Linked DNA regions of Homo sapiens: regions 2 and 3 are each reported to be linked to region 1. Evidence: microRNA targets listed by miRTarBase, many of them from high-throughput screens and not tested one by one. Region 1 holds a microRNA gene; each other region holds the end of a gene's coding sequence.

Region 1 (3,344 bases):
GTGAGGGACTGACGAAGGGGCCCACCTCGCCCCTGCCCGAGGGACCGAGGCCCAGGGTGCAGCCGTCCCCTCGGGGGCCAAGGAGGGGCGAAGTGCTCCGTCCGGCTCGCCTCTCCTCCCCAGGGACCCGCCAGTCCCGGCCGGGCCAGCCGGAGATAGCGTGTAATAAGAGGGAGGGGAGAGCTCTCCGAACCCCCCTTCCCCGGGATCCCTACCAAGCAAGTGAGTCTCTTGCTCCAGCCCCTCCGAGCCTCCCCGGCTGGAGTCATGGTGCCGGGGCTGCCCCAGGAAGCCCCCATAAAAAGGAGGGGGAGACACCCCCATACTCACCCACCGTCTCCTCCCCCTCAGCTGTTTACCTCACAGTCCCTCCAGCCTACAGGGCGCCGCCATCTTGGACGTACAGCACCTCCCCCGTCGTGAAAGGGCCAAGGCCGACGGCGGCCTCCGCCACGAAAAAGAGTCCCCCTCCGGACCTCCCCTCCTTCTCGAAAGGAAGGATAGACGGCCGCGCTCGGCAGCCCCGCCGGAAGGAAGAGGCTCTTCCACTCATAACTGACGATGTGGGTTGGACGAGAAAAAAAGTAAGGAGGGTTTTTATGGAGGGGGGCGGGGCCGGGCGGAAGGATCCGAAAGGAGGCTGCGAAGAGATCTTGTGACTCCGCGAAGGAGGCAAAAAGAAGGGCCGGCGCGGCGGGAGGAGCCACGCGAGAGCCCGAGGGGGCGGGGCGGGCGGTCACGTGACTGGCGGGCGGGGGGACGCGGCGGAGAGGCGTAAACAAGCTGGCGGCGCCTGGGTGTGGTTGGAGCGCCCTGCCCCTGCCCCCCGAGTCGTTTCTGCCCTTCGCTTGCGTGGCGCCCTCCGAGGGTCTCTCTGTGGGCGGCCTCAGAGCAGCGATCCTGTTTCCCAAGGAGCTGCTGGGGCCCGCGTGGGTGAAGGGCCTGCTTGGGAGCTTTGGAGTTGCAGCTCACCTGGGAAGGGGCGGAAAGCTGCGGGCCAGGGCAGCCCTCCTTCCTGGGCTAAACATTTTCAGAAGCCCGCCTCCGGGATTGCGGGGGACCCCCCTGGCTTCTGCCTTCAAGTAGCTCACACTTCACACCTACTCATGACATCTAGGGGAAACCAGCCCTAATAGGAGACAGCTTGAAAATCAGAACGCCTTATTCCGTTTCCTGCTGAAACAAGGCTTTAAGTCCTCCAAGCCTCAGTTTCTTCCTCTGTGAAATGGGCATAATGACATCTGTGACGTGAAGAATCAAGGAGATGAAGTATGGACAGCGTTTAGCCCAGAGTCCTGCGCCTAGTAAATGCTCACTCACTAGATAGGTGGCCTTTATTGCGAGGCTGAGTATGATGGGCTCCATCCAGCACGAACACAAAGCCCTGTGAGAGGAGGCAGAGTGAGATGAAGTCGAACTGTGGGATATGAAAGGCATTTTGAAGGAGTAGGCATCAGGTTGGGTTTTAAAGGAAATGTAGGTTTTGTGAAATACTAGGTCGGTGCAAAAGTCATCACGGTTTTTACCATTAAAACCGCGATGACTTTTGCATCAACCTAATAGAACCAGGCGAGGCGGCTCGGGAGAGAAGGCCATTCCAGGCAGAGGGAACCAAAGGAGCAAGAGCCTAGGGGCAAAAAAGTGTTGGGTGAGTTATGGGAATAACAGGTTTTGTCATGGGAACCAATTGGGTCACAGTGCAAGGCAGCCATGGTTAAGGGGGGCCAGGTGTGTGAGTAGCCAGCACCGTGGGTGCCTTCAGAATTCTGAAAAGGCCCTGGATGGTATCGGGTAGAGCCGCTGCTAGTCAGTATAGGGCCTTGGTGAGAATTAGAAAAATGGCACCCCTGGGCTGTATTTTGGCCCCTATCCACCAGCCCCAAACCCTCCTGGGCCCTTGAGCAGTGAACAACCTTTATAACCATACGTCTAGAGCCACGAAGGCTTAGGAGGGAGGTGAAAATTGAACTGATGATTCCTCTGTTCTAACACAGTCGCTGGGGGGAAGCTAAGAGTTCTAGATTCAAACAGACCAGAGTTTGAATGTAGGTTTCAGCCATCATGTTCTAACTGGATGAGCCTTAGTCTCCTCACCTGCAACATAGGGCTAATAATAATGCTAGTTCATGGGGATTTGGGGTGAAGTCAGTGAGTCATTAAGCTCTAAGTGGCACAGAGCCTACTCCAGTTAATGTTATTTTTGATAACTGTTAAGTGCCAGCTGTCAGCATCCATCACTTCCAGAAACGGGTCCACCAAACACTAAATTCTTCTGTGTCACCACCCAAGCATAGTCTGCATGGGGTCCAGAGATGGAAAGGTCGAGGGAAACGGGGAAGGGTCTGGGTTCTCTCAGTTCCACCAATCTGCAAACTACTTTACAGGAACAGACTCTTCCCTTTGCATTCACACCAGGGAAGGGATTCAAGATTTCTGAAATCTTCAGAGATTTCTGAGACCACCAGTGATGGGAGACCTAAGGAGGAGGGCAGGGGGAGCAGCACTGCTCTGGAGCTCTGACCCAGGAAGCCCCCCCACACCCTGACCTTCCTTGGCTCCATGACCTCATCCTGCAGGAATGCATTCTGCCATGGAGGAGAGCAGCCATAAGCAGAGCTCATCAACTGCTCACTTTCCAGGGGGCCATAACCACATTGTCACTGTTTCTACACTGTCTGGAAGAAGAATGGGCATTGTTACCTCAATATGGGACCACCAGGGGCTTGCAAGAAGAGGCTGAAGGTGACAGGCAGAGACAGCTCTACTACCATCTCCTGCCACTTACCAGGCTGGGCCACCTAGATGTTTTCTGCTTCTCTGGGGTTGATTTTTGTCATTTGCTCAACAGACACTATTCAGACCACTACCTTCCATACACCACCCTGGAGCCTCCCTGTGACGGGGCTTCCTGACCGGCCTGTCTGAGCATGAAAGGGCTGAGCCCTCCATAGGCGGGCGTGCTGACAGGATGCACGTGGTGGAGGACATCTGCTGCATTTGGCTGTGTGACATCTCCCCCTCGCCTTCTGAACAGGTGAACCGCCCATCCTCAATTCTTTCAGTGCTGATGGTCCTCACAATCACAGTACCAGCCCCAGGCCACAGCAGGTGGACCAGGCCTGGCCAATCTGAGATGCCCATCATGGAGCTTGTTAAAAGAAAGCTTAAGACAAGTTCAATTAGATTAAATTTAATCGAGCAAAAAAAAAAAAAAAAAAGAAAGAAAAAGAGAATTCATGAATCAGGCAGCCTCTAGAATCAACAGATTCAGAGAGACTCCCGGGGTCAGAACAAATTTATAGACAAAGTAAAGTGGCCTGGCGCAGTAGCTCACTTCTGTAATC
Region 2 (3,000 bases), not on the chromosome of region 1:
GGAGGAATTTGGGTGCGGGGGCTGGATTTGAGTGTGGGTAGCCACCCCACCACTACCCACCGCTCACAGAGGCTGGGGACACAAGCGGTCTGCTAGGTCCCTAACTCCTCTCCCTTTCTAACGCCACAGAGATCGACATCACATGCTGGGATGCAGACCCAGTTCCAGAAGAGGAGGAGGGCTTCGAGGGTGGTGATTAGCGGTGGCGCCAGCCCTAGGCTACCCTTGCCAAGGCCGCCCACCTGCATCAGCCTCTGGCCAGACGGCCCGCCGTGCCTGCATTCGCAGCAGCTCCGCCTGGCACCCACTCCGGATTCCGGCCCTGGCTGGGGACTTGGCCGCTTCCCTACCCACAGGGCCTGACTTTTACAGCTTTTCTCTTTTTTTAAAAAGTTGATAGGAGACTTGTACAGTTGACTGGCTTTCCTCTCGTTGGTAGTTGAGACGCTGTTGCAAATTCCACCCCTCCTTCCCTGGTCCAGATTGTAGCTCTTAGTCCTCCCTGCTCAGCTGGCCGGGTTGGAGGCCTCACCCTGCTTGGGGCCTGGCGTGGGGGGAGCTCTGGTGGGAAAATGTCCCCCACCTCTTTTCCTAGTTTTATGTTTCTTGGGAAAATATCACTTTGTATTCTCTGTCCAGGGCTTCAGATATTTTGCACGAATTTTAAAACATGGCAATAAATGGCTCGTGGGCTCTGGCTCCCTGGGACCCCCTCCCCGCCCTTCTTTTGACCCCTTCCTGTCTGGCCCAAAGGAAGTAGCAGGCCCAGCTGGGGCCCCTCGGCTACCCCCCGTCTCCTGCCGGGCAGGTCCCAGGTTGGAGGCCCTAGGCGCGGTTCAGGTCAGGGCTATGGATGGGGCCCAGGGGCTTTGGTGGCCCCTCCCCAACTCCTTCCTCTTTGCTTGGGTTCCTTTTTCACGTTTAGTAACTGTTTTTTTTTTTTTTTTTTTTTTTTTTTTGGAAAGCACAAACTTCTGTAACGGGTCGTGCTCATGTCTGTTAATAAAGAAATCCAGATCCCTTCGGGCTGCCGCCTGCCCTGACCCAGGTTCCCAACTCCTCCCACCTCCGAGGCCGCAGCACCTCCTTGCCACCAGGGGGCGTCCTCACCCTAATTCCAAGGCCCGCCAGGCGGGGGCGGGGTGGGGGGGCGGTGCTAGGGGCTAAGGCTCCCAGGGGAAGCCGCTTGGCACCTACAACCACCGGAGAAGGGTTGGTCTTAGACTTAGTGCTGTACCCTTAGGTTCTGTTGTGGCGGAAACGCACGTTGAGGGTCCTTCCCGCCAAGGCCCCGGCTTGTCTGGTCACACAGAACCCTGGGCGAAAGCAGCCGGTGCACCCTCCGCTTGTACCAAACCAGATCACACACCTTTATTATCCTCAAAATGTAACAAACGGGATAAGAAATCCCTCCCTCCCCCCGCCCCTCCCCGCAGTCCAGGGAAGCATTTAAAAAGCCCCGCAGTCAGGCCAGGAGTCCGCCGGTGGGGCCCGGGGCGCCGGGCGCCCCTCTATACGGCTGTAGTCCTCCCGAACAAGGGGATGGAGACCGGCAGACGCCAAGCTCCGTGCTCCAGGGGCTCGCGGCTGCTGAGCTCTGAGTCGGTCCAGCTGGGGAAGACCCGGCGGCCACGGTCGGCCTGCAGGCAGAGGGCTGGGCAGGGCGGCGCGGGCCGAGGGGCGCTGGGCAGGTGCAGCGCCGAGGTGTAGCCCCGGTCCAGGAAGAGCGGCTTGTAGCTGGGAGGCGGCTGCTCCTGCTTCTCCGCGCTGTCGCGGCGACTCAGGAAGGGCGTGACGATCTTGCGGTAGAGGCCGCGCGTGTCCGTGAGCACCTCGCTATAGGGCGGCGGCGGCTCTGCCATCAGCACCGCCTCTTCGTAACACGGTGGTTTGGACATGTCCGATTCCGCTGCGGAGTGGGAGGCGGTCGGAGGAGGTGAGGCCGCCGGTTCCCAGCCTCTCGCAGAGGCCCCGGCCAGGGGCCGCCCGCGCCCCAGCCCTAGCCCGAACCCGAGCCCGCCGCCGCCCGTGTTCTCCCGGAGGCTGCGGATGGAAGCCCTGAGGGTAAGCAGCGAGCCCTCCAACGCCCGCCCACTTCCGGCGGCCCGGATCGCCCCCTGGCGGAGGTCGGTACTCACCTTGGCGCGGGTAGCTCCAGGGCCGTGGCGGCACCGACAGGTGCGTAGGCGGCGGGTGCGGGAGCGCGTGGTGGTGCGGGTGTGGGTGCGCGTGCGCGTGCGGCTGCGCGGGCCCGTGGTGCAGCAGCGGGTGCACGTGCACGTGCGGATGCGAGTGCGCGTGAGCCGGCGCCTCCAGGCGGCTACGGTGTGGTGGTGGCTGCGGCGGCGCCAGGCCCGGGGGGCTCCCGGCCAGACTGCCCTCGAGTTCGAGGGGCTCCAGCTCTAGGGCGCGCAGGTTCTGCTCGCGCAGTCGCTCCTCCTGGCGCCGTTTGAGGCGGCGGCGCAGGAAGCTGCAGAAGCAGCAGAGCAGGACGATGAGACCCCAGATGAGCCAGAAGCCGGCGAAGCACGTGAGGAACGTGTAGGTGCCCTGGGACATCACCATGGCGGCGGCACGGGCGGCGGGTCCTCAGACGCTTCACTGGACACTGGGCTCCGCTGCGTGGCCCCGGGCCCGCGCCACACTCTCAGGTGCCGCCAGCGTCACTCGGGGACCCGCGGCCGGGGGCTGCCCGTGGCAGGTCTCAAGTCGTGCGCGCGCCGGCGGGGGACAGCAGCGGCGCCCGCTCCTTCCCATGGCGCCGGCGGGCGCGCGGGCGTGCCTCACCCGGGGCCGCGCGGGACCTGTAGGGCAGACACGGGGCGCAGTGAAGGCGCGCCGCGGCCCCCAACGACTTCCCGGCCCCCGCCCGCGCCCTGCGCAGTCCGGGGAAAGCCTCCTCCGTGGGAACCTCGCGCTCCCCGGGGGCCCGGTGACGTCACCGAGGAGGGTGACGTCACGCCTCGAGGTTTCCCCGGTAGGGTTTCCCCGATCTGAGCC
Region 3 (3,344 bases), not on the chromosome of region 1:
CCGTCTCTACTAAAAATACAAAAATTAGCCGGGAGTGGTGGCACGTGCCTGTACTCCCAGCTACTCGGGAGGCTGAGGCAGGAGAATCGCTTGAACCTGAGAGGCGGAGGTTGCAGTGAGCCGAGATCACGCCACTGCACTCTAGCCTGGCAACAGAGCGAGACTCTGTCTCAAAAAAAAGTAAAACCAAGAATCTGACTGGATTGCTAATATTCTCAACCAGATGACTAAATAAGTTAAATTTCATCCCAGTTTCTGATTTTTATCAAATTGTGTGGAATAGCATGGCTTTATTTTGAGAGTCATAATTACTTTATGTGCGACTACTACTTACTCTCATTGAATTCTTACCTAATCAATGGGCTAATAGTAACAAGTAATAAAAGCCATATCATTTCTCATTAACCTTTTATTTTTAACTTAGTTTTACAATAAACAGAAAAGAAGTTATCATTAAAAAAATACCATAGCTGTCAAGTTTAAATGAGGTTCTTATTAAACAAAGCAGGAACACTATATCCTATAATTACATCTTTACTTTTATATACAAGAACTGTGTGCAAAGTGCTTTTCAAACTATAAAATAAGACTTTGGAACAGGATAGAAATGGTTATCCCTAGGAGTTAGTTATCCCAGACTGCTTGTAATGATTCACAACTGCTTACACTCTTAATTTGCATTTTATTTATTTATATACTAAGAGAAAAGACACTTTTTACTGATACCAAATTGATATCTCATTTTTGAAAATAATCTTTGATCCACAGGTCTAAATGTTATTTTTACATATAAATTCAGTTGCTTGCTTCACTTTTTCCTAAATAAATAGGGAACACTTTTTTAAAAGCAAATAGTAGTAGATCCCTTTAGACAGACATATTTTAATCAGTATGGGATTAAATAATTAAAGTTATTTGAAAGAAAAAAATAAGGAAAAAGAGTTTGGGAAAAGTAAATTGTATTCTTATACTTTTCAGGCAAACAAAGAACCATTCTGTATACTAAAGACAGATTATTTCTTATTTAAAACACTGTGAACATATGATGTTAAACCCAACATCATACATCTTGAGAATGCTTAAAAATTATTTGCTACAGGCCAGGTGCAGTGGCTCACGCCTCTAATCCCAGCACTTTGGGAGGCCGAGGCAGGCAGATCACCTGAGGTTGGGAGTTTGAGATCAGCCTTACCAACATGGAGAAACCCCGTCTCTACTAAAAATACAAAATTAGCCAGGCATGGTGGTGCATGCCTGTAATCCCAGCTACTTGGGAGTGAGGCAGGAGAATCACTTGAACCCAGGAGGTGGAAGTTGCAGTGAGCCAAGATCACGCCATTGCCCTCCAGCCTGGGCAACAAGAGAGAAACTCCATTTAAAAAAAAAAATTATTTGTTACAAAGACTGCATCAAAGAAATCTTCAAAGCACAAGGTACATCTAAGTGAGCAGGAAGTTTTGGAAGGCATACAGGAAAAGTCTCCAAGGATCTAAATTGTAGTCTTCTTTTTGGTCTAGATGAGAGAGGTGGGGAAGAGGGACTTAAATTTCTGTTAGCTGGGCATGCCTTATTCCTATGGAAGCATTTGGCCCGTTAGCTTGCAAATCCCTCCAGTACTCCTGTGAAGTAGGTGTATCTAAAATAGTATACCCCGAAGGAAAAACTGAGGCACTAAGAGGTTAAGAGTCCAGTCTATATAGTTCATCAGTTGCAGAAAAGTGATTTTCGTGTGTTTCCTTTTTGACTGTTGTAAAAACAGTATAAATAAGTTTTCATTTTATATTTCAAAGCACCCTATGAAGCAGACACTAGATATCCTCAGTTAAACAAAAATGATTACAAAGGAATACATTTATATGATTGAATAAAAACCTGATTAATCATCTACAGGCTCAGAATACACTTTTAAACCTACATGAAGCTCATTCTTCACCATTTCCATCAGTGGGTTATGTCTAGCCTGCAAATCATTTGTAAAAACTCAGTCTGGTACATAGGACTCCACTTTTTAATAATGATGCCTGAACACCAAACTCAAGAGTTGTGAATGCCCAAGAAAGATTATGGGCAGCCCACAAAGTGAATATGACCATTCTTCCTGTGGTTTTCTACTACATGCCATGGCAACTCCGTGACTAAGATATAAAGTCGATTACATCTCATTTGAAATTCACTCCTGGTTTGCATTCTTTCTTTTATTTAATTTAGAAAATTAAAAATAATAACTTATAAATTTGATCTCATTATCACAATGGTACCTTTGAAAAGCAGCTTATGTTACTCTATGGAAGATAATCAGGTAAACATGTTACCAAATGATCATTAATAATTTAATGTCCTTCAAGTTCAAGGGCAGGGTAAATCTGTGTATACTACTTATAACCTAGTAGAGATTGATTATTCAAGTATCAGCAATATTAGTCCTTAAAATGTTATCGTTTGTGTAGTGCAAAATATATATGTGTATATATGTACACAAACTAAACTACTGGACAACAAAAAGCAATGTAATCATCACAAACTAAGATTTTCTTGTGAACACCACAATCCAGTTCATTCTGAGGTCATCCAGTTCCAGTAGTCTTCTTGAGGAAAACACCATTTTCCTCAGTTCAGTTTTCTTTAAAAAGAAAATAAAAACCAATTTCCTGTGAGTATGAATGCAAATAATTCTCTGGATGGTAACATAATAATAATAACATACAAATTCAAAATAAAACCATAATATTACCAACAGTCTTTATAGAACTACATCATATGACTTGCAGCCTGATAGGAAAGATCCAATTACAAGTGCTGAAATTACCAAACAGTTTTAAATTATTTATTTATTTATTTACTGGGGCAAAGTCTTGCTCTGTCGTCCAGGCTGGACTGCAATGGTGCCATCTTGGCTCACTGCAACCCTCCGCCTCCCGGGTACAAGCGATTCTCCTGCCTCAGCCTTGCAAGTAGCTGGCATTACAGGTGTGTGCCACCACACCTGGGTAATTTCTGTATTTTTAATAGAGACGAGGTTTCGCCATTTGAACTCCTGACCTCAGGTGATCTACCCACCTCAGCCTCCCAAAGTGTTGGGATTACAGGCGTTAGCTATGGCGCCCAGCCATCCTGGCCAGTTTTTAATAAATAATTTAAATGTACATTCATCCTCTCTTACTTTCTAGATTCTTACCCTTTTCTAATTGGCTATTACACAATTAAGATTTGTGGAAATGATTTCATAATTTTATCAAAATGGAAAAGTTATGAAACAAATGCGTAACAAAACTGTAAGAGGATAATAGATGTACGACCTGGAGTATTCACTTAATCAACATGGATTATGTTTCTATTACTTTCCA

The links. Region 1 holds the annotated microRNA hsa-miR-548aw (GUGCAAAAGUCAUCACGGUU, at 1,502-1,521, shown strand). A microRNA usually pairs through its seed, bases 2 to 8, with sites in the 3' UTR of a target mRNA and lowers its output. Matches are read on the target gene's strand: a 7mer-m8 pairs with bases 2 to 8, a 7mer-A1 pairs with bases 2 to 7 and ends in A, and an 8mer does both.
Region 2: the mRNA of DBN1 is a reported target of hsa-miR-548aw. Seed matches in the 3' UTR shown: 7mer-m8 at 651-657.
Region 3: miRTarBase lists ACBD5 as a target of hsa-miR-548aw. Seed matches in the 3' UTR shown: 7mer-m8 at 2,448-2,454 and 7mer-A1 at 1,599-1,605.

The regions. Positions count from the first base shown.
Region 1 is chr9:132,944,213-132,947,556 of GRCh38, forward strand. MIR548AW (microRNA 548aw) reads left to right here and starts at 1,495; the gene lies at 1,495-1,559. TSC1 (TSC complex subunit 1) reads right to left here and starts at 404. Exons shown (of 23, transcript NM_000368.5): 1 at 331-404. It also overlaps a transcript of GFI1B not described here. RefSeq lists silencers at 12-71, 132-191, 722-801 and enhancers at 276-1,009, 322-621, 982-1,121.
Region 2 is chr5:177,454,633-177,457,632 of GRCh38, reverse strand. DBN1 (drebrin 1) reads left to right here. Exons shown (of 15, transcript NM_001363541.2): 15 at 130-1,023. The coding sequence ends at 200. It overlaps PRR7 (proline rich 7, synaptic), which reads right to left. Exons shown (of 4, transcript NM_030567.5): 3 at 2,139-2,804; 4 at 1,347-1,909. The coding sequence starts at 2,565. The coding sequence ends at 1,512. Among named protein-coding and RNA genes, the nearest start is that of PRR7-AS1, 8.2 kb to the right of the region's middle. RefSeq lists enhancers at 1-466, 2,031-2,325, 2,573-3,000 and silencers at 1,019-1,218, 1,589-1,728, 1,819-2,368, 2,878-3,000, 2,559-3,000.
Region 3 is chr10:27,194,823-27,198,166 of GRCh38, forward strand. ACBD5 (acyl-CoA binding domain containing 5) reads right to left here. Exons shown (of 13, transcript NM_145698.5): 13 at 392-2,620. The coding sequence ends at 2,608. Among named protein-coding and RNA genes, the nearest start is that of MASTL, 41 kb to the left of the region's middle.